Linked DNA regions of Homo sapiens: region 1 is reported to be linked to region 2. The links are microRNA targets in miRTarBase. Many come from high-throughput screens and were not tested one by one. Region 2 holds a microRNA gene; the other region holds the end of a gene's coding sequence.
The links. The annotated mature microRNA hsa-miR-1245a reads AAGUGAUCUAAAGGCCUACAU and lies in region 2 at 8,389-8,409, shown strand. An mRNA with a match to its seed (bases 2 to 7 or 8) in the 3' UTR can be bound and repressed. Matches are read on the target gene's strand: a 7mer-m8 pairs with bases 2 to 8, a 7mer-A1 pairs with bases 2 to 7 and ends in A, and an 8mer does both.

Region 1: the mRNA of PAICS is a reported target of hsa-miR-1245a. Seed matches in the 3' UTR shown: 7mer-m8 at 5,328-5,334.

Annotation. Positions count from the first base shown.
Region 1 is chr4:56,453,662-56,466,080 of GRCh38, reverse strand. It overlaps PAICS (phosphoribosylaminoimidazole carboxylase and phosphoribosylaminoimidazolesuccinocarboxamide synthase), which reads right to left. Exons shown (of 9, transcript NM_001079524.2): 8 at 12,320-12,419; 9 at 1,503-6,709. The coding sequence ends at 6,543. It overlaps LOC124900706 (a long non-coding RNA gene), which reads left to right. Exons shown (of 2, transcript XR_007058126.1): 2 at 3,088-4,771. Among named protein-coding and RNA genes, the nearest start is that of SRP72, 7.7 kb to the left of the region's middle. RefSeq lists an enhancer at 5,884-7,083.
Region 2 is chr2:188,969,748-188,982,166 of GRCh38, forward strand. It overlaps MIR1245A (microRNA 1245a), which reads left to right and starts at 8,345; the gene lies at 8,345-8,414. COL3A1 (collagen type III alpha 1 chain) reads left to right here and starts at 4,626. Exons shown (of 51, transcript NM_000090.4): 1 at 4,626-4,821. The coding sequence starts at 4,743. MIR1245B (microRNA 1245b) reads right to left here and starts at 8,414; the gene lies at 8,346-8,414. It overlaps LOC105373791 (a long non-coding RNA gene), which reads right to left. Exons shown (of 3, transcript XR_007087614.1): 2 at 600-732.

The sequences.
Region 1 (12,419 bases), not on the chromosome of region 2:
GGAACCGGGCGGCACAGCAGTAGGTGATCGGTGGGCCAGTGAGCAGTACCGCCTGAGCTCCTGTCAGATCAGCTGTGATATTAGCTTCTCACAGCTCAAACCCTATTGTGAACTGGGAATGTGAAGGATCTAGGTTGCTCACTCCTTAAGAGAATCTAATGGGAAATGTAATGAGCTTGAATCATACTGAAACCAGCTGTCCAACTCCTGTGGAAAGATTGTCTTCCCTGAAACCGGTCCCTGGTGCCAAAAAGGTTGGGAGACTCCCTATAGGACTCCACTTCTGAGCACTGATAATTAAGGGTTATCTCACTCTGTATGGACTATAGTTCTGAGGCCAAGGAACCATATTTACCTTGCTCACTGCAGTATCCCTAGGATCTAGCATACTGCCTGGCACATAGTTGGCATTTTTTGTTTCACATTCCTTGCCTAATCTTGAGTTCCTTGAGGGCAGAAACTGCCCAGCTCCTGATATGGCATATGGTGCCCTGCCATATTTTTGTCTGGTCCTTCCAGTATATACAATGCAAAGAGCATGAAAGGTGGCTTGAACTCTAGGTGCTGGAGGGTGTAATTCTTGTGAATTAGTAAAAATCATGAGAAGAGCTTTAGACTTTTACTGACTAGAATTGTCACAGGTTTCAAGCCAGTTATGTTTAGATTTCAGGGGGTGGGGGCTCCAGATGACATGGTATACCCAAAATGTTGTGTGAGAAAATTGGGTATACCCAAAATTTTGTTGTATTTTGTTATTCTGAGAAAATGTAGATTCCACTGTATTCTCCAAAGGTGTTTATATCCACCATCCCCTCCCAAAAGTTAAGAGCCACTGTCCTAGTAGTACTTTTTAGAACATTGACTTTATATAAGAATTGGCAATTTTCGTTTCTATATCATTCTAATCCTATATACTTTGTAGCTTTTAGAAATGCTCAGAATTCTGCTGCTGTGGACTTGTTTCTATTTCTTATGTCATTTTAATGGAGTTTTGTGGCAAACAGCCTATAAATATGGGGCTTAACCTGCCATTTTTGAAACAGGAATCTTCCAAACCATAGTGGTGTTTTGTTTTTTTTTTTTTAAATAACAAATTTACATCTCACATTGTGAAGGATGGAAAGATTGTCTGGTGAGGGGCCACTCTGATTCATAGATGGCATCTTCTGTTTTCACATGGTGGGAAAAAAACCAGACTGATCTCTTAAAGCATGTATCTGATGCCACTTTCCTACCCTCACGATAAAATCCGAACTCCAAAGAAGAGCAGTAAGAGCTTTTGTGATCTGGCCTCTGCTTGCCACCTCCCCAACTCACATAGGTCTCTATACTTATTTCCTAGCCCCCTTGCATGCTATTCACCTCTAACTTCCATGTAGTTATGTGTCCCCCTACCTCCTGGAATTTGCATTTTTATTCATCTGACAAGTGTTTGTCTTGTATATGCCAGTGCCGTGTATTACACCAGTTGCTGTGATACAGCTGACAACAAAGAAGACAGCCCAGTGTAATACATTTATTTTCTAGTTGGGAGAGATGGGTAATAAATAAACATGTACTATGTTTGGTGGTAATAAGTTTGCTGAAGAAAATTATGGAAAGGTAAGAGAGATTGAGTATAGACTGTGGAGAATTAGTCTTTTTCATTCACAGTATACAATTGTTTTCTAGAGATCAGAGTCCTTCCTACTTTTGTGTATTCACAATACCCTATTGTTAATTCCATATTAAGACTATATACGGTGTTTTGAAATTGTCTGCCTCTGGAGACTTCCAAGATTCATTGAGAGCAGAAGGTTAATTTTGTTCATCTTTGCATTCCCAGGGTCTTATATATACATAATAGGCTGTATTTGTTCTCTAAAAAATACAGAACCAATAGGATATGTACAGATTATGAGAAATTGGCTCTGCAAAATGGAGGTGAAGTCCCACAGTCTGCCTTCTGCAGGCTGAAGGCCCAGGAAAGCCAGTGTAGTTCCAAACCCGAGGGCTTGAGAATCAGGGGAGGCAATAACGTTAAGTCCTAGTCTGAAGGCCTGAGGACCAGGAGCACCAACATCTGGGGGCACGAAATGGATGTCCCAGCAGTTCACCCTTCTTCCCCTTTTTTGTTCTATTCAGGCCCTCAATGGATTAGATGACGCTCACCCACATGGGTGAAGGCAGTCTTCTTTACTCAAGTCTACTGATTCAAGTGCTAGTCTCTTCCAGAAACACCATCACAGATGTACCTAGAAATGTTGTTTGACCAGCTATCAAGGCATCCCGTAGCCTAGTCAAGTTGACAGAATTAGCCATCTCATCAGTATCCACAATGTATTTTTATATTAATGGATTTAGCCTGAGAAGCTTCCATGTACAGTATCTTTTTTTTTTTTTTTTTGGCGACAGATTTTCGCTCTTGTTGCCCAGGCTGGAGTGCAATGGTTCGATCTCAGCTCACCACAACCTCTGCCTTCCAGGTTCAAGCGATTCTCCTGCCTCAGCCTCCCGAGTAGTTGGAATTATAGGCATGCACCACCATGCCTGGCTAATTTTGTATTTTTAGTAAAGAGGGGGTTTCTCCATGTCAGTCAGGCTGGTCTTGAACTCCCGACCTCAGGTGATCTGCCCACCTCACCCTCCCAAAGTGCTGGGATTACAGGCGTGAGCCACTGCACCCAGCCTCATGTACAGTATCTTATGGTATCTTGTCAACTCAGAGGCAAGCAGAAGAAATAAGACGTGAGCCACCGCGCCCAGCCTCATGTACAGTATCTTATGGTATCTTATCAACTCAGAGGCAAGCAGAAGAAATATTTAGCTCCATTTTATAACTTGATTTCCATTCCACTATTTTCATTGTACTGCAATGTGAGATTAACAATTCCACCCCAAGTATTTGAGGTGTGGGAAGCTGGATGTAAAAACACCATTAAAAACAACTCTTTTCAATGGCTTTCTAAGGTTGGCTGGGCTGAAATGGCAGGTTGTGGATGCTCCGTGGCACATCACACTGCCCCTTTCTTCATATTAGAAATTAAATCAGCCGATGGCAATATTGAATTCCAGGTAATTTTCTTTCTTTCTTTTTTTTTGAAACAGAGTTTTGCTCTTGTTGCCCAGGCTGGAGTACAATGGCGCAACCTCGGCTCACCACAACCTCCGCTTCCCAGGTTCAAGCGATTCTCCTGCCTCAGCCTCCTGAGTCGCTGGGATTACAGGAATGTGCCACCATGCCCGGCTAGTTTTGTATTTTTATTAGAGACTGGGTTTCTCCATGTTGGTCAGGCTGGTCTCGAACTCCTGATCTCAGGTGATCCACCTGCCTCGGCCACCCAAAGTGCTGGGATTACAGGCATGAGCTACCATGCCCAGAGAATTCCAGGTAATTCTCATGGTGAATGAATTCCATTCATACTGTTGTTCTTCAGTCTGCCAAATGGATATTACATAACACATTTGTGTGCCATGATGGGCCTTACATATATTGACTCATGTAATTCTCACAACTTTATGAGGTGGTATTAGTCGCATTTTCATTTCATGAAATTGAGGCACAAAAAAATTAGACATGTTGAAGATCATACATCATCCCTCACCTGGGCTACAATAGCCTCTTAACTAATCTCTGCTTCTCCTCTTGTCCACACAACAGCCAGAGAACCTTTAAATATGTTAAGTATGTCAAGCCTCTGCTCAAACTGAGTTTTTCCTGTCACACTTCAGTGTGGCCTATAGGCCCTAAGTGATGTAGCCTTTGCTTATATTGTCTTCCACTCTCATCCTTGTTCACAGAGCTCTAGCAATTCTCATGTTTGGAGGTCCTCAAGGCAAAACTCAGCTTTATTTCCCATTCCCTTAGTATGGAAAGCTATTTCCCTATCTGTGTGTCTTGCTTTTACATCATTGCTCTGCTCTCCTCAAAAACCTTCCCCTCTTATCCCCATCACCGTCCTCATTTTGATTCTTCATATACATTTATCCTTTCCTGATTTTATACTGTTTACCTTTTTATGGTTTGTTTTCCCCTCTAAAACATAAGTTCCATCTGGACAAGGGCTTTGCTCAGTCCTATTTTCCTAGGCCCTAGAATCAAACCAGTATTGGGTGAATGGATACTGAATGAAGCTTTACCTAAGTGCTTTGTCTTTTACTTAGTTTCAGTGGTTAAATCTCAGAAAGCTTAACAGCAATTCTAAGCATGTCTTTATCATAAAAGGTTAAAAACTGTATTATTGGGATATTTTTTCTCTTTTTATGTTTACCTACAAGCCCGTAGAAAGTATAAATACTCAAAAGATAGCAGACCAGGTAGGCTTAAGTTACTTTTACAAAACAGTAGAAATACCTTCAAATATTTAGCACTGATGAACTTACTACTGAGGACATGTGGACTCTACTAAGAAACTAATGATGAAATTCATAATTGGGTGTGGTAGCACATGCACCCAGCTACTCGAGAGGCTGCAGCTTGAGTCCAGGAGTTCAAGGCTGCAGGGAGCCATAATCATGCCACTGCACTCCAGCCTGGGAGACAGTGAGAACTTGGCTCTTAAAAAAAAAAAGGAAAAAAAATTGATAACGACAATTTGTAATGGTCAGTCCTATCCACCAGTCTAAATGAAAGTTTAAAAATTTTCATATACTGCACAGAAGTAGATGGAGTCTTAATGCTAGGTAAGGGTAAACAAGCTGAAATAGCAGTCAGTGACTTCAGAGACCATGAAACCAAAGTTAATCTTCTAAGTCCTTTTAATTGTTCTTATAAACTAGCATAAGATATAAACTTAAGTAGTACACATGAGTTTTATAATTTACTAATCTCTGACAGATAGCTAAGCATAGCACATCAGAGCATAACACAGTGTGAGGGAAATAAAGTGTACAATGACATCTTCTATTCTGGACCTAATAATTCAATAGAGAAAGAACTACTTGTAGTCACTGTGGTTACAGAAGGTTTCATGGACAGCGAACATAAAGCTCTACTAGCTAACAAATAGGTCTTAATGATAAAAACGTGGGCCTTCAGAGAACTAAAGGTACCAATGTGTGGCAGTCCAAAATTACGAGGAAAATGAGTTCCCTTCATGGGTCACATCAGCAATTTTTTTTTTCCCCTTTTGAGACAGAGTCTTGCTCTGCTGCCCAGGTTGGAGTGCAGTGGCATGATCTAGGCTCACTGCAACCTCCGCCTCCCGGGTTCAAGCAATTCTCATGCCTCAGCCTCCCGAGTAGCTGGGATTACAGGTGCCTGTCATCACGGCTGGCTACTTTTTGTATTTTTAGTAGAGACAGGGTTTCACCATGTTGGCCAGGCTGGTCTCAAACTCCTGACCTCAAGTGATCTGCTTGCTTCAGCCTCCCGAAGTGCTGTGATCGTAGGTGTGAGCCACTGTGCCCAGCTACCTCATCAATTCTTAATCTATAAACCATGGATAGGCTTCGGGAGAACCCAAGAACCAATGAAATCTGTTGGTAAGTTTTATGTGTGCGGTTTTCTACAGAGAGGGTCAACAGCATGTATATTTTCAAAGAAGTCTGTGGTGCAAAAGAGAGTTTATTGTTAGAAGTCCTTGGGCAATCAACTTGGAAAAGGGTGGATTGAGAATGGGGGCTGTCTAGATCAGGATAATGTTGAATTTGACCCTCACTTGAGGCTTTTGTACAGAGGATGAGAAGACGGTAAATTCAAGGGTTAATCAGAAATTAACACCAACATGACTTGGTGATGAGTGAGATGTGAAACGTGAGAAAAACATCAATGATGAAATCAAGCTTCTGACTTGCAACAGTGAGTATACCAAGAGCTACAGGCTTGGAAGATGAATAAAGTTGGGAGCATTCTGTTTTTTCATGAGTGCCCATGGGACAGACAGGGAGAAATGGACAGTTGAAAGTACAAGTCTAGACAGGCACAGTGGCTCATGTCTGTAACCCTAGCACTTTGGGAGGCTGAGATAGGAGAATTACTAGGGTTCAGGAGTTTGAGACGAACCTGGGTGACATAGTGAGAGCTCATCTCTACAAAAAATAAAATTAGCTCGGCATGGTGCTGCAAGATTATAGTCCCTGTTAGTCGAGAGGCTGAGGTGGGAGAACTGCTTGAGCCCAGGAGGGAAAGCAGCAGTGAACTGAGATCACGCCACTGCACTCCAGCCTGGGCGACAGTGAGACCCTGTCTCAAAAAAAAAAAAAAAAATGCAAGTCTGGAGAAATATAGCTGGGAGTCAGTAATGCCAGTTTTAGCTGAGGGAGTTAAGATCATTTAATCAGTGTTAAGGAAGAAACTCAATAGTAGTGACCACCAATACTTAAGGAAAAAGGATAAAGTAAGAGGAATGATAAAGGCTGGCTGAAATATCTTGGTGTCTAGCCTAAGAAAGGAGGGGTTAGATGCTCATGTTTATTAATATGGATCTAGAGAAGCATTTATTCACTAATACATTTTATTTGTGTTCTCTAATTTAAAATTACCTTTTCATCTTGCTTGATTTTCCTTCAGCTAAATTAGAAATTTGTAGTTTTTCCCCTAAAAAATTCAATGGCATTCTTTCTTATAAATTACATTCTCTGATTTTCTTGTCAGCCTGCTTCAAGGAAATCCATGTGTTCAAAATGCTTGCTCGCAGTTTGCTCCATACCAAATGGTTGCTTAACCCAAATATCTGAGCAGCAAATTGAGCTGATCCTTCTGGAGAAAGTACGGTTGAACAGCCAAGACCTATTGGTTCAGCAAGGAAAAGACAGAAAATTGAGCTCAATTAGTAATGAAAATACAACCTTACAAAAAATTTTATACTCAGAGCAGTCCTGCCACAGAAAATAAAAAGCTACTGCATTATTCTAATCTAAAGTAGAATCTGTACAACTGTCTTTAATACCGGAGTGGTAAAGTGATTACAAGAGGAAAAGCAGTCAGTATTACCTGCCATGAAGAGATATTTTATATATATCATCTATCACCCTTCTTATAGAACTCACTTACAAAGAAACTTATCTTTTTGAAACTTCTGTTCACATACACTATCCCTTTCAATCCCTGGCGAAGAACAACTGAAGCAAAATAAGGGTCAAGGTAAGAGTACAAAAGTACCTGTTCTTAGACAAACTTGAGCTATGTTGTTTTGACAGTTTTCTAGCTAATCTTTCTATCTGCATTTGAACTATTTTAATATTTTTGAGCAGTAAAAGTCAAATCCGTAGAATAATTTTAGGAAATGTCAAGTTATAAATAAATATTAATAAGATCCAAGACAGCAGAATAAAAAAGTAACATCCTAGGGGCCACATGTCTGCTCAGGCAGAGTGTCTTGAGGTGGTACTATTATGTCTAGTGTTTGCTAGAATCAGGGGTACTATTATGTCTAGTGTTTGCTATAGTTCCAAAAGCTCGATTTTCCCGATATTCTTGGAATTCATCAGGCTCTTTGACTCCCATTATCCACAAGAACAGAGTCAAATACAAATCACAAGGCCAATTTACTAATTTGTATTAATACGTTATTTTATGGAGCTCCACCCCTTAATATGTGGTATTGGTCAAGTTACTTCACGTTAATTTATTCTCCTCTTCTGTGAGAAGGGAATTTTAACTAGTAGCTACCTGATGTGACACTTCAATGAGTTAATAACATAGATAAAGTGCTTAGAGCATTGCCTGGTACACAGTATGTGCTCCAAGAATGTCAACCACTATTGTTAGCACGCTAGGTAGAGTGCTCCACTCTAATATTTGAAATAACCTGTGCCTCCTGCCCAGGACTCCCTTTCTGGTAAAAGAATAGCTTAAATTGCAGAAAAAAAAAAAAAAGTTATCTAGTGAGCATGACATCAGAGATGAGAAATATGGGCGGTCTTCAGGATTTTACACAGGTTACTGTAAAACTACTCCTCAAAAGATTATCCCCAATTCTAGTGATCATTATGTACAAGTCTTCCAGATTATTTGTCACTCCTGAAACAACACTACTATAAAAACTGCCAATTTTTTGCTTATCATGCTCCCCTTTTGTAAGCTCCATGGGTATCTATACAATTCCTCTGGCATAAATTTGGTTACAGCTTTATTTGTAGCCGCTGATTTTTAGCTTGAGACATTTGTATAATCACATCTTGTTAAAGATAGCTTAGGCACAAAATTTAATTCTCAGAGCCTATAAAAACAGTAAAGGAAATAGGCATGAACACACAAGGCCAGATAACAGCAGTAACATTTTGGCAACTGAAAGGCAAACACAGTGGTAGCTAAGTTAGCAGACCAAGAAAACTTAATCAAAATTAGCTGGCATGGTGGTGCATGCCTGTGATTTCAGCTACTTGGGAGGCTGAGGCAGGAGAATCGCTTGAACCTGGGAGGCGGAGGTTGCGCCATTGCATTCTAGCCTGGGCAACAGGAGCGAAACTCCATTTAAAAAAAAAAAAAAAAAAAAACTTAATTCTAAACTGAAAGCAGGGAAAGATGAGAAGCAACATGACTGACATTACAGAACTCCCCCAAAGGGTGACTGACTAAATTAGTGGCACCAGATACCTTTGGAAGGGAATAGGGACTAAGAAGAAGATGACTGACTCGAAGTCTAAGAAGAAGCTAGGTCCTCAAATCTCCTTCCCCACTCCATCTACCTGAGTAACTGCCTCTTTAAAGCACTGTAGCAATTTTTTTCTTTTTAAACATTATTTTTTTCTGAGACACGGTCTCGCTCTGTCATCCGGAGTGCAGTGGTGCAATCACGGCTCACTGCTGCCTCAACTTCCCAGGCTCCAGTGATCATCCCACCTTGGCTTCCCAAGTAGCTGGGACCACAGGCGTGTGCCACCATGCCTAGCTAATTTTTGTATTTATGGTAGAGATGGGGTTTCGCCAGGTTGCCTAGGCTGAGCTCAGGCAATCCACCAATCTCTGCCTCCCAAAGTGTTGGGATTATAGGCATGAGCCACCAAGCCAGGCCTTTAATTTTTCTGAAGGTAAAACAGACTTCAGTCTTGGCGTCTTTGAACTAGGGGACGCCAGGCACAGACAACTTTTGTTCTCTGAGTAATTCTGGTCAACACTTAAGAAAATACCTAGACACTAATGTGAGGGGTTGTTTGAAGAACAATCCCTACCAGATACACCCCACAGTGAAGCCCAATTTTGACACGGACCACCCACTTGAAGTTTCCAATTGTTTTTTATAGTATTCCACTCTTAAAAGCGCAAACAGCCAAGGATTACCAGACAGCTGAAGAAAGTAACTATATGCAACAGACTATAATCATCTCCAGAGAACAAAAAAGAGCTTTTGGAAATTTAAAAACATACAAACACAAACAACAACAACAACAAAAACCCAGAAAACAAAAACCAAAAGAAATATAAAAACATTGTGTAAAAAAAAAAAAAAAAACCCCAGAGGCAGTGGTTCCTACCCAATCCCAACACTTTGGGAGGCTGAGGTGGGAAGATTGCTTGAGTCCAGGAGTTCAGGACAAGCCTGGACAACATACGGAGTGCCCATCTCTACAAAAAGTAAAAAAATTAACCAGGTGTGATGGTGTGGGCCTGTAGTCATAGCTACTTGGGAGTTTGAGGTGGGCGGATCACATGAGCCCGGGGAGTTCAAGGGTCCAGTGAGATATGATCATGCCACTGTGCTCCCACCTGGGCAACAGAGCAAGACCCTGTGTCAAAACAAACAAAAAACACCTGTATCCAAAATGAAGGCCGGGCACAGTGGCTGACGCCCATAACCTCAGCACTTTGGGAGGCCAGGGCAGGCAGATCACCTGAGGTCAAGAGTTCGAGACCAGCCTGGCCAACATGGTGAAACCACATCTCCACTAAAAATACAAAAATTAGCCAGGCGTGGTGGTGCATACCTATAATCCCAGGTACTCAGGAGGTTGAGGCACGAGAACCGCTTGAACCTGGGAGGCGGAGGCTGCAGTAAGCTGAGATTGCGCCATTGCACTCCAGCCTGGGCAAGAGAGCCCGACTCCGTCTCAAGAAAAAAAAGAAAAACTCAATAGAAGGGTTGGAATGTAAAATTTAGGAAATATTCCAGAAAGTATACCAACAAGACAAACAAGTAGAATAGAAATCAAGGGAAGCCCAAATTTATTCAAATTCAAAAATGAGAAGAGAGAATATGGAGGGGTATGAAAATTAAATAATTCAAGGAAAATGGGGACTAAGAAATCAGAATTTCAGATTAAAAGAGCTCACCGAAAGTCCATAATGAAAACAGACTCAGCACATCACATCTGTGTAAAATTTAAGAACAATGAAAACAGACAAAAGATCCTGAAAGATTCCAGAGAGAAACAAAATTCATAAGAAACCTAGAATCAGACTGGTGGAAAAGCAATGGAGTCCTCAACTGTGGATGCTAGGAGACAGTGGAGTAATAATGCTCCCAAAATTCCAAAGCAAAATGATTTTCAGCATAGGATTCTATTTCTAAACTATCAAGTATAGGGCTTCAATATACACATTTTAGATACACAAGGTATCAAAATTTACCTTTTGTATTCTTTTGCCCCCAAGTTCAAGAATGTACTCCAACAAAATAAAAATAAACCAAGTAAGGGGAAAACATGGGAGATCCAAGCCTAGAGAAAGGCAAAATGAGTCTCCAAAATTATGGTAAAGGGGGATCCTAAGACAACAGCAGTACAGGATGCCTAGAGAGAAGCCAGTCCACTGGACCAGGTTGGAGGGCTCAAAGACTTAATATACTTGACACATATCAAGACTGGATATATACAGATATGAGAAAAGTTAGGGATTTTAGTAATAAAGCAAATCTCCTACTGAAACAATATTGACCCTCATAAACTGCAGAATATCAGATCATATCTTGGACTATGATGAACGAACCACAACACTGTTACGTGATCCAGTTCCATCAGCCAAAAGGGGACTTCCTTATGTTATTATCTTTTATCCCCAATTTTTTATTTTGAGACCGAGTCTCACTCTGTTGCCCAGTTTGGAATCCATTGGTACAATCTTGACTCACCTCTGCCTCCCAGGTTCAAGCGATTCTCCTACCTCAGCCTCTGAGTAGCTGGGATTACAGATGCTCACCACCATGCCTAGGTAATTTTTGTATTTTTAGTAGAGATGGGGTTTCACCATATTGGCCAGGCAGGTCTTGAACTCCTGACCTCCAGAGATCTGCCCACTTCAGCCTCCCAAAGTGCTGGGATGACAGGCATGAGCCACTGCACCCAGCCTTATCCCCAATATTTAAGAATAAAATTGTATTCTCTCTACAGAAGTAACATGATCACATTTACTTTAAAAAAAAAAATCAATACCATGAATTCTTGGGAAAAAAATATCTAAACTTGATTTTATTACAGATCTCACCATCAGTTTATAGAAAATATAGGGAATGGAAGAGCATGTTTACCACCACCTAGAAATGTAAGAAGCCAAATCCAAAATATAGAAAATTCTATTGAAAAAATGAAAGGGAAAAAGGGAGGATGAATTGTTATATATTTAAAAAATCAAGAGATTATCAACTAAATGCAATATAAGGACTGTGGTGGATCTGAACAAACAGATGAGACAATTAGAAAACTTGGACCCCAACTAAAAATTATACCTTAAGAAACTACCACTAGTCTTTCTTAGGTGTGAATATGGTATTGAAACTGTGTCCCCAAGAGTTAAAAGATACCAACAACTAACAGAAATTCCTGAGTTTGCAGAATGGTAGATTAAACAATATGGCCAACTAGAGTCTGCACAGAACCAGCTTACTGATGTCACAGGCCCAATTTCCACCACAATTCATTCTAACTCCCCCAAATTTACACACGTGATCCATGAAATAACATGAAGAGATAACTGCACATGCCCAAGGACTTTCTAGACCTCCCCTTTCCTTCCACCAATCACCTACTAATCCCAGAATCTATCCCCTAAACCTTTTCTAATAAAATTGCTGCCTTAAAGCCAGCACAGATTTGAGCTGGACTCATGTCTCCTTGTTGGTCAACTTGAAAGAGGAAGCCTTTCTTTCTCAAAAACCTGGTGGCTTAGATAGTACTGGTTTCTAATGCATCAGATAGTGGGCTCCTTTTGTTCTATAACAATATCATGATTATGATTTAAAAACTAGAGCCTGTATTACTTAAACATATACTTAAGTATAAATTACTATAACGTCTAAGATCTGCTTTAAAATAATCCAGCAGGAGATGGCTGTAGACACAACAAGATGTTAATTGCTGAAGCTAGGTCATGGGTACATGAGATTTTATTATGCTATTCTGTCTACTGTTGTGCATCTGTTAAATGCTTGTAATGAACAGTTTTTAAAAATTCAATGTATCTTACCACTGGGTAGTCGAAGAGAAGACCACACATCCTGAACTCCCCAGTCTGGTGTGAGGGGAGGACAGCTGATAACTGGATATGCAGTGTTCCCAGACATCAC
Region 2 (12,419 bases):
AGAACATGCTTACAATACTTCAGAAAGTTTCACAATTCAAGTAGAGGCTTACCAGTAGTTTCCCTTTCAATGATTAATAGTCTGTTATGTTAAATAAGATTTCAGGTGACATGTTTATGTCTACATAAGCAAAAACTCATAGCTACTTATCTACTTATGTGAAGCAACATTGATATAACAAATACAAGTTATCTTACATGTATATTAAGGAAGTTTCCTAGAAATTTTTACTTGCTTGAATTTTTGTCAGCTTTTAAAAGTATATACATACGTATTTAATTATACATATATATGTGGGGGGTATATAAACATATACACACGCAAACACACAAAAACACATATGTGAACTCTTTTGCATGCCCTAAGATTGTACTTCATTAAGTGTAAAGTAGTGGACTTTTACTTAAATACAATACTGAAAATTACTCAAAGATTAATGACAAGACAAAAATCAGAATGGTAATTTTTGTAAATTGGCCATTAACTCCATAACATTATCATTTTTTTCATCCTTTCACAATGCCTCATTAGAAAACATACAAAATTAAGTGTCAGATTTGTATTTACCACACTTCTAAATTGCGTAAAAATATCTTTACCACAATCAGTGATTAGTGGAAAGCATGGTGAAAATATTTGTAAAGTGTGCTAGTCAGTTCCAGTTGCAATGAATTATTTTGAGGGTCATGGAACCTCTTTGAACTTTCTGTTCAATCTTGGGATACTTCCCAGCTGCAAAACACAAAGACAAAAATTCAGAGCCTTAGCTTTAATAGCAAAGAATAGGTAGGAATCAAGATACTCAGTTTTTTCTAACTAAATTTTACTGGAACTTTACTTTACTAAATGTCAAGAAAATATGGATTTTGTACAAAAGTGAAAATTTTTAGTTATTTACAATTCCAATGAGTAATTTTGAGAGTCATGTAACCTCTTTAAACTTTCTGTTCATTCTTGGGATACTTTTCAGTTGCAAAATACAAAGATAAAAATTTAGAGCCTTAAGTTTAATAACAAAGAATAGATAGGAATTGAGATACTTCGTGTTTCCTAACTAAATTTTACTAAAACTTTATTTTACTAAATGTCAAGAAAATATAAATCTTGTACAAAAGTGAAATTTCCAGGCTAAAAAGAAATGGTTATTAAAATGGTTCTATAAGAAAAAAACAAGGGGTCAATGAACTCTACCTTGGGGACTAAGGGGAAATTAAAGAAAAGGGTCTTGAAGACTTGGTCATATAATCACTCAAAAACTGGACTATCATGTCCCACTGCCAGTGTAATTTGCCTCAATCCTGGACATATCTATGGTTAAATATGTTTAAGTCCTGCAAGTACAACATGACTTTTTCAACCATATTTTTGGCTCTACTATGCACATACTAGTATTTGTTCAAATTCTTTTAAAGGAAACACAACTCTTCAAATGTGGTTTTACCTTTATCAACTGAGTGAACTGATCAACCTCTCTGGGAATAATAAAGAAGACCTGCATTGTATTTTACAGTTGTATTGGTAGTTCTATTATCACAAGTAGTTTTTAAATGGCTTTACAGTGATTTGAAATCTAGAAAATGTCCCTAAAAATAAAGCATCTTGCTGGCTTCAAAAAGAAAATCACACATAAAGCCGCACAACAAAGGGGAGGGGAGAGGAAAGAGAGAAACATTGAAACATTTCTGTTCCATGTGTTTTCCATGGTGGAGATAATTGATTTTCTTAGTGCTGTTGTAGAAAGCGCTGCTGGCATTCACTGGCCTACTGAGTTCATCACAGCTGTGCTTGTGCATCTCTCTCAAGCTCCACTTTCCACTGAATTGGAAAAGATTTGAATTTTTGGTTGATAATCTGCCACACCCTTGCTTTGCCTCATCTTTCCAGGCACTCTCTTTGTTAAAGGAGATCCAGATTAATCAGTGCTTTAGTTGGTGCAGGTATTTAGATTTGTGTTAAAGCTCCAAATGCAATCCAAAAAGCAAAATGACATGTTTATGTGTCCTGGTTAACATCAGTGAAGTCAGGGAAGTATGGGAAGAAATGTGTGGCTAGATAACAATGAGGACAGCAGTTCCTGGATGGCATAATAGGATTCAGAAGTGTATGCATTTCACCTAGTTCAGACCCTGTATTAAGAAATGCTTTGACCCCGTATTAGGAAATGCTTTGACAGGAGGTAGAAAAATAGGATCTGGGACACAGAATGCAAAGGATCCTAGTGCAAAACCTCCATATTCGAGGTAGTGAAGAATCGTAAATCAGAATATCTGGAGAATGAATTCTCTAGGTCTCTCCTGAAGACCTTAAAATACAACAATCCTTCCATATGCAAAACATCAGCTAATGTTTCTTAAGTGAGTGCATCAATCATGAATTTTTCTCATGAGTATAAGGCTTTTATTTGAATAGCTAAGCAAATTAAGAATTTTAGAACAATAGTAATTTTATTTATAATGCCTAAAATAAAGCATAACAAGCATTATTTTAAAAATAACATTTCTAATTTTTCACAGTGGAAAATAAATCTAATGAAGAAATTCAATAAATTTCAGCTTTTATAGACCACCTAAAACAATGAGAGAAATCTAATATAGATATATGAATTCTACGTAGATACAAAGACATCATGAGAAAAACTATGTTTCTGAATTGGTTTGAACACAGGAAATATTTTTTGTGTACAGGACAAAGATGTCTGAAAGACAGAAAGATGCATATAACAGCCTTTCCCCAGCATCTCTACTGTGATCCAGTAGAAAAGCTTATATTCATGACCATTCTCAACAGTTACTTTTCTCCCACGCCCCCAAGCAGTGACTCTCCAATCTAAAATAAAGATACACAAGAGGTTGGTCTCGTTCTAGTTTTCCTTTCCTGTCATCAAATGATGTCATCTACATTGAGATGTCTTGGTTTGTGTCCTTGTGACTGAAGATATAAGAAAGCTTGGGAGGCCGAGGCGGGCGGATCACGAGGTCAGGACATCAAGACCATCCTGACTAACACGGTGAAACCCCGTCTCTACTAAAAATACAAAAAATTAACCAGGCGTAGTGGCGGGCGCCTGTAGTCCCAGCTACTCGGGAGGCTGAGGCAGGAGAATGGCGTGAACCCGGGAGGCGGAGCTTGCCGTGAGCCGAGATTGCGCCACTGCAGTCTAGCCTGGGCGAGAGAGGGCGACCCCGTCGCAAAAAAAAAAAAAAAAAAGATGCAAGAAACAAGAAAGCAAGTTTGCCACTGTCCATGCTTACAGGATTCATGTACACCTGGGAATATACATATGACATGAGTTGAGTGAAAATTTAGTAACACAAATTAGAAGAAAGAGAAAGATGAAAATTAGTTTAAAGGAGGTAATTTACTTAAGGAGGAAAGTTTTGCATTGAGGCATAAGGAAGTGACTTCCATTAATTGGTGTGAAATGGGGAGAATTTTATGTGCACAGGCATAGAGACGGACATGTTTAGGTGAAGGTGAAGAAAATTAGTTCAAGTGACCTTGATTAGAATTGAAATGTCCACCGTAGATTATAGAGATAGATGAACTAACTATGAACTGATGATTAGGGTGTAAAGAGATATCTCCATTGCCAGATATAGCCTTATACTGTGGACAAGCATATTTTTCCTGCAGAGATTTATCAAAGACCTATAAATGGTATTTGCCCCTCTTTCAAATATGACACAAAAATTACTGCTTAGATAGATCCAGAAATACATTGGAAAGTTTTGTGGATGAGGATCTGGAAAGTATACACATAAAAGTCTAAATTAGAAATATTTATACTAATCTTTAGAGTAATGCAGAAAAAATGACCACTTTCTCTGGTACTCTTTTGCTATTCTATGTGATAAACTCTTTCTCTTCCAGTTTCCTAAAAAGTTATGTCATGAAAAGGCTGAATTTTTCTCTAGAAAAATCTGCTCTGTCTTTCCCAGGCAGCATAAAAATTGGAAATCTCACAAGAAAGCACTCTGGCTTGCTAAAGAAATTTGTGAGAAATGGAAACAGCTATAGATAAGTATCTAACTTTTAGGAAGCCATTCAAACATTGCTGAAATACTTTGTCTTTTGATATTTGCCTGAAACTTAACTTCTAGGACCCAGGGTGGGTGGATGAGTCGAAGGGGCATACGGTGGCATTTCTTTCCGTGAGTCTCTTACAGTCTCCTATTTAAATTGAGTTAGGATTACTTCTGGCAAAATCCCAACATAAAAATCTTCTAGGAAGATCAGTTCTGTAAATTAGACATACTAGATAAATGGGCATCAAGCAGTTTTTCAAAATTATGCAGTTGTTAACTTCATAAGGGGAAATAAAAATGTATGCATTTACATTGTATGTATTAAAACAAGGCAGAGCATTTCTATACGTTCCTAAGTTATACAAACATATATGTAAGAGTGAAATATGTAAAAAAACTTTTACATAAGCAGATGCATACAAACTCCAGATGTGCTCTTTTTCTTACTGTGGGTTGTGTCTTCTATAAGGGAAAAAGAAATATTTATCATTTCTTTTACTGCTGAGGGGATGGGTGCGGCTCTCATATTTCAGAAAGGGGCTGGAAAGTGAGGGAAGCCAAACTTTTTCCTATTTAAGGCCAAAGCAAAGGAATCTCAGTGGCTGAGTTTTATGACGGGCCCGGTGCTGAAGGGCAGGGAACAACTTGATGGTGCTACTTTGAACTGCTTTTCTTTTCTCCTTTTTGCACAAAGAGTCTCATGTCTGATATTTAGACATGATGAGCTTTGTGCAAAAGGGGAGCTGGCTACTTCTCGCTCTGCTTCATCCCACTATTATTTTGGCACAACAGGAAGGTGAGTAGGTACTGATTTCAAGAAACTTTATGGGATTTTTGTCTTTCTTCTCCTCACAAAGAGGGGTGTAAAGGGGAAAATCAGTTGCCTGATTCAAGATAATTTCCTCTATAAGCTCCAGATTGTGAAACGTTGAACTGACCATGGCTGTGCTTTTTACATTACTTGAAAAATAATCGCGTTATGTGTGTTTTTAAGAGTTCTGTGGTTAAGATAAGATGTTCTTGTACTAACTTGTTTTCATGTTAAAGGCACTGGAAACTTTTAAAAATGGCTTTAAAATTTTTCCCTCCTGGATTGTTAACATCTTGGAATACTTCCCCAGGCAGTCTGGAAGTTATTGGTCTCTTGCAATAATTTTATGTTCCTCTTTGTCTGCTGGATTCTTTGTAAGGTTAGAATATTGAGCATTGTTTTCTGAATAAGAATGCCTTTCAAATATCATGGATTAAGAACAGTCTAAAGGAAGATTCTACGCATTATCAGAATCATTGAATATATTTCTGTAAAATGGCTACAAGATACCTATAAACATTCTTCAAAGGGATCAAACTGCTAAAATATTTTATTATTCCTGTTTTTATTTTGTTTCAAGAATGATTGATTAATTCATCTTTTCTAGTAGCTTGATATTAAGGGACTAATATTTTCCACATATTCTACGTTTTAACCACATTCGCATTAATGAAGAAAATATTTTTTAAAATGTTTCAACAGGAGGTTTGACTTTGCTGCAAACAAGGTAAAGATACTAGTACTGTTTGACTTCAGAAAGCTGTTTTGCTATATTTTCTAATAATTGCATGTAATGTTTTTCATATTCTAATTTCCCCTAAAAACACATTTGTCTCATTATTTATGTGAAAATATTCTTTTATTTACCATAGTCATGAAAATGCTGAACAAATTGGAATACAAACTTCCATAGAAATAAATATTTAAGTGCTAAATGTAAAGATAGCTAGGAGAAATTATTAGACAATTTTTATTGCACATAACTAAACATGGTTACATTTAAACATATAGATTTTGCAAAGGACACTGCATGAAAATTTGGTTTTTGTTTGTAATATCAAATGTATTTGTTGTCCTCATAGCTAATACATGTAAATGTGTGTATGAGGGGAGGGGTAGATATACAATGAAATGTCTTCAGTTATATTCAGCCCATGGACACAAAAGAAAAGAAACACCCATTTTCCTTGTTCCCTTAATTTCCTCTCCTCCTTACCCCTCCTCTCCTTCGCTTTGCCCTCCTCCTTATCTCTCTCCACCCCTTTTGGCTCCTTTAGACTTCTCTTCACTCATCACCCCACCCCTTCCTAGGCAAGCCCATATCTACTCCTCTCTCCTCCTCTGTCTTCCCTGCCTGTTACTCCCTCCCTACTCCCCATGTGGCCTCCTTATGCCTCCATTTCTTTTTTTTAGTTCTCTCTCTCCTTGCCTCCTCACCCTTTCTTTCCCCTGAACTCTCAATCCTTCTTCCTTTCTCATTCCTCTCCCCTTTTCCTCCCTATCCTGCTCTTCCCAGGAGATGCTACAACTCACAGTCCTTTTTTAGGATACCAAATGACTACTATCCCCCACCAACCATTTATTGAAAAGACTACAAACTTAGGGGTTTTAGCTCAAAAAATTGCAACATATTTGTAGTTGCCTCGTGGTTGCAAGCTTTTTATAAGCACTGTGGCTATTTTTCTTCCCAATCCAACTTTAGTGGGGGGGTGTTTGCCACTTACAGTACCTTGACATCACATTAAGTTCTGTTTATTTCCCTCTTTCTCTTTAGATGCAAAAAATAATCAATAAGTATAAAATTTTGCTGATATGTGTTTGTGTGTTCTTAAGCTCAAAAAGAGTTGAAAGAGAACTGTTCAGCCTATTTTTTTTGTCATGAGTAAAAGTAAAGTTGAAGTGACTTAAGACAGTACATCTTATGTTCCCTGTGGGTTTTACAAGGAAATTCTGCTATTAGATAAGCTTTGGAAAAGTTACAGGAGGTATCTGAATATACAGCACACTGAGAGCTGTCATAAAGTTCTGGGGTGGGGTTTCTTATATATGCCCTCATAACTTCAGAGACGGCACAGCTCTAATGAACACTCACTTCTAGTTCACTCACAGGCATTTTCTGGATACAAACAAGTCCTCAAAAAGAATTTTGGTCGTCTTACAAATTTGTGAACATTGTATTTAATTCATGTGTTTTAATCCACCAATGGAGAAACATAGTCTGTTTTATATTTCCTGTAGATTATAAACATGCCAAGTTTTAAGTACAAAGATGCGTCACCTAGTGGCTGACAAGCCAGGTTACCATTTACATAACGAATGCCAATATTAATGTTATGTAGCTGGCTTTGGTAGTTTATAATGAGCTTTAAAAAATTCATATGCGTGAATTTTAAATGTTAACACTGCTCTCCTAAGGAAATTAGTATGTTACGGATAAATATTGCAAACACATATACTGACACGAAAACACAATGGTAACAATATTCAGAGTCTTTTTGGAAATTAGCTTAAATGTTACGGCCACTTAAAAATTCTACATATGACTATTGTTTAAATACATTTTTCATGTCTCTGATGTAGTCCTTATTTGACATAAGTATTTTATTCACTGCTTAATTGTTAGATAGATTATAGACAGCTGTTACTAAGTAATACTGCTCCATTAGGGCAGAAACAGAAACTTTATTTTAATTAAATGTGTACTAATGTTTGAGTTTCTATATTTTGCTACAGTGATAATTCCAGTAAAATAAACTGTAGGCCTCTAGTTGTTTTAGAATTTTAAAACTGTAAATGGACTCAGAGAATCAGTTTCTTATTAGACGTCATGAGAGTATATTTTTTTCATTATGCTTTAAGAGGGAATTTGTAACTTGCTCAGGTAACATTCAAGTTTTCTGGTTTGTGTTTGTCCCTACAATTAAACACACTGAACTAACAGGAAAAGGTTACATACATTTAGGAACAATTGCACTTTTAAAGGGAGAGAATGCATAGTTGCTCACATATCTCAGTGTCAGTCACCTAACATGGATCAGTGCTTTATTTGAGATTACAAAACTAGAAAATGACGGAGTCAAGGCTAGGACCAATATTCTGTTCAGTCTTAGATAATTATAGAATACACATTAAAATCAGATATTTGAATTTTCTTAATTTTGTAACTATTTGTCATTGAAAGGAGATACTAAAAAAATTATATATCGTCCTAGAAAGTACATGAACTAATAATGCATTTCTAAAGGTGAAAAAAGAATAGGTATTTTTCTGTTTAATATTCAATTTTATAGAGAGTAGTACGTTAATTTTTTTAAACCCCAGAAGCTCAGGATCTTATCATTTTAAAAGAAATTATCACCAGTTCTGTGTGAGTAAATAAAGTATTATAACACTTTGTGTTTTTCATCCATGATACCTTGTATTTACTTACCTGAGCTTTTTTTCTAGGGAAAGAAAAATGCTCAGGTAATAACAGAGCCTTGAAAAATTTGGATTTTCAAAACTACCTATTTATGTATAGGCCTTTAGATCATCTGATGTTGAATACTCTTTAAGTGATCTAAAGGCCTACATATAAAAAGGTATTTTTATTAAATTCTGGAATTAAACATTTCAGCATTACAAGAAAAGAAAGCAAATCCACTGGAACAATTCTGGGAAAGAAGGAAAGACTGTGATTAAATGCCTCTTAACTACTTCAGATTCCTGGATTGATGTCTTATCTACAGGCTTCTTTTTAAAAATCAAGAATGATTGGCTGTGAGTTTACCAGGATTATAGTTGAGGCTAAAGGACAGCTCCTCAGGAAAGCCCCTGTTCTACATCTACGGTCACATGCTGGACCTTGAGTTGTCACTCAGAGAAAAGAGTGCCATCTACCGAAACTCCACAGTTTCCATTGTGAATGGCTTCTTTGGTGCAGAGTTCCAAAAATTATGTAGCCCAGCTCTTTAATTTTGTAACATCTAATGATATCACCGCCTTGAAGTGATTAAAGTAGATTGCTTAAAGAATTAAAGCTTTAAAGATGAAAGATGTTATTGCTTTTGCTGGACATGAGGAACAGTTGTAAAGTTTCCAGGTCTACAATAACTTTCTGGAACCCTCTCAGTGAACTGTTTCTTGTAAAAGTTTTCCCTAAGATAAAAGCTCAATCCCATTGTTTCCACACTCAAAAAAAAAAAAAAAAAAAAGATCATATAGTGTAAAAAAAAACTCTCCAGACTTTTCAAAGGGGAAACTTTGCCTGTTTCATGTCAAGATGACAACGGAAAAAATGAGATAGCTATTCTTACATAAATCATTTGTGAACTGCAGTTGGGGGAGTTACATTAACCACCAGAGTTTCAGTCTGTGTCTAATGAAAACACAGCAGAAGTGGATTCCTTTCAGATTAACTAATAAAACCCTTGTTTTTTTCCATGACTGAGGTCAAGCACTGCTGTTTAAAATGTAGTCTTAATGAACAAAATGAAACGTTGAAAGAGGACGAGTCAAAATGCCCAAAAGATGTAAACATCAAAGAGAAAAGATCCAGAAATTATTAAAAGTTAAACTTCCCTTGAATTCTAGTATTAAGAAAGTACTGCTTCAGTAAAATGGCATATATTTTTCTGAAACTGTTTTTCTATAGTATTTTGTGTGGAGGATGACAGAGACTGCATTTCTCAAGTAAATTAAAATCACAGAAATACTCTTTGGAGTTGCATAGCATGTTCACAACGTTCCAGTTTCATTCAGTGAAAACTTCTGATGAACTTAGATGTATATTAACATGAATCATTTAGTAACTATATTTTCTGAAAAACAGTGTGTTAATGAGACATCTTAAACATATTTTTGCATTGGATGCAGAAGTCTTTTCTGTCTGGTACTATTGTTGTTAGAACCCTACTTTTTTGTATATAGCAAAATGTATGCAGGGTTTCTGAGTCACACATTTATTCTGTTGGTGGTCTGGATGTCATCAGGGTAGCTTTAGAGATATAACCCTTCTTCATAAGGTCAAGAGAAAATAAACAGGAGAATTTAACTCCAGATGGCATCTTCCTGTTTTGAGGCCAGATAGAAAAATATTTTGCAAAGAACTGTTGTCCTTCAAAATATACCTATCTAGATTCAGATTTTAACCTTGCAGGGATAAAAAATCATATGGGACAGAGCTTTGGAGTTGGCTTCTTTAATCGTACTCAGTTTTGAAATAGCAGAAAGAAAATAGAATGCAGTAATTAAGAGTATCAAATTTAGAGAAAGCCTTCTTACACTCAGATCTTCTTTTTCACCCTGACTGTGTAACCTTGGGAAAATTACTTAATGTTTCTGCAGTTAAGATTCCTCATCTGTAAAATTAGGATTATGACAGCTGTAAGCTCATAAGGCCTTTGGGAGTATGAAGCAAAATAGATATTCAAACTACTCAGAGCAGTCCCTACAAGATAGGAGGTACTATAGCACTAGTTTTACTAACGCTGGCAAATAAAATTACTCTAAGGAAGAAATTAAAGTACTTAGTAACTTAGTGATAAGGATGGTGAAATGTAAAATTTTATTTATAAGACTATACAATTTAAAGTTGTTTGCCAAATGTAATAAGACAAGTAGAATATATTCTCTTCAATGTTTTTATAATTTGACACTAAGAAGATTTTATTATATATGCAATTGCTGGTGGTTAGATATATGATACTTAAAATTTTCTAATTATCTAATTATTTTTATTTTTAACAGGATAAAATATTAATCAACTTAAAGGACATTTCTAAGGAGATTGAATTCTAAAAGATTAATCTTTTAGACAATTCTAAAAGATTAATCTTTTAGACAATTCTAAAAGATTAATCTTTTAGACAATTCTAAAAGATTAATCTTTTAGACAATTCTAAAAGATTAATTGAATTCTAAAAGATTAATCAACTTAAAGGACATTTCTAAGGAGATTGAAAAAGCATATATCTATAAAATATGAAACAAGAAAATATCTACAAATGATAATTTATCAACTTTTTTTCCTGGAGGTAGCAAGAATAAATAAAATCTTATTTTCTATGCAAAACAGTGCTTTTAAATTAAAATTATTCACCTAGAATGTCTACAGATACTTTCTTCAGAGTCCTTTTTGTTAAGTAATCTAACATATTTTAAGATACTCTGATAAATACATAAGCAGCAGAAAAAATATTTTATTAAAATTTATGTTTTCCAAACAATATCATTTAAAAGGCAAACCAAACATTATTTCAATTGGAAACTATATGAATGCCAAATACCCACATGTACAAAATATTCAGCTTTCTAAAGTAATGAAAATAATTATGATAATTTATATATCATATCTGTGATTCTTAGATTTTCAGATTATACAACATCTTTTCCCAGATAAGGATTTAGTAAGAAGAGAAAAGGAAAAAACATTCACTTTTCATTCAAGCCAAATTAATTAATTTAATTAGGTGCTTTAGGGAATAATATTATTGCTCCAAAAATAGTATTAAGACAAACATAACATTCATTTTTTGTCCAAACAATATGATTTCTTCAAGTCAGCATGATTTAACATGAAGAATGGAAACAAAAAAATCACAAAATAGTAAGCTTTATGCACATCTAAAAATATAAAATTATGTTATTTGGCTTTATTTTTCTCTAAAATTCCAAAATAGAAAACTAGGAAAGAAGCAGCTAAGAGTGGTTTAAGACATGTGTTAGCTTCAATATGTTTTATATTATAGATCCCAGCAAGGAGATGATTGAGTTTAATACATTGCTTGTGTGATCACAAGTAAATTTCTTTCAGAATTGTACTTCGTAGTAAGGAACAGAAACACCAAATGACATGGGAGATGGAATTTAAAATTAATTATAAATTGGAACAGAGAGATTTAGTTTAAACAACTAAAATAATGGAAATAATTGGAAAGTCCATTACTTTTCAATAGTAGAATGAAATTATTTGCCTTTTATTTAATATTTTTGGAAAAAATTAACTTATTTTTTTAACCGAAGCTACTCTGAATGCAGATATCTAAGAAATGAAGAGAATAATATGAGATGACTTACTTCTAAATCCCATTTTCTATTCTATTTCTAAATGTTGCAAATGGCTAACTAGAGCATTTTTATTCCTCTAGAAACAAAACATTCTTTTCCTTGACTTTGCCATGATTTTCGCACATATTACTAGGTATTAAATGAAGGTCCATGAAACATCAATCTAAGAGCTTTAACTTTCAGTAGAATATATTGCTAACTATATTTTGTCATGCATGGAATAATAAAGGAAGCTATACAAAACTATTTTTTTCAGCAAAGGTAACTAAGGTAGAAAAACAGAGAAAGGGCTAATTTTCAGCCACAAGTTTTTACAGGAACTGACTTCTCAGGAGAGCCAAATTTATTTCAAGTGGATGTGAAATAAGTTATGGCAATAAATAAAGTTGCATTAATTCTTATTTTTTAAACATTCCAACTCTCTTTTTTTTACTTAAAACAATATGACTTTCTAAAGTAAAACAAAACATACATGCACCATGTTGACTGTCATGTGCAGGTGAGAAGAGAAAAATATTTTAAGAATATGATAATTT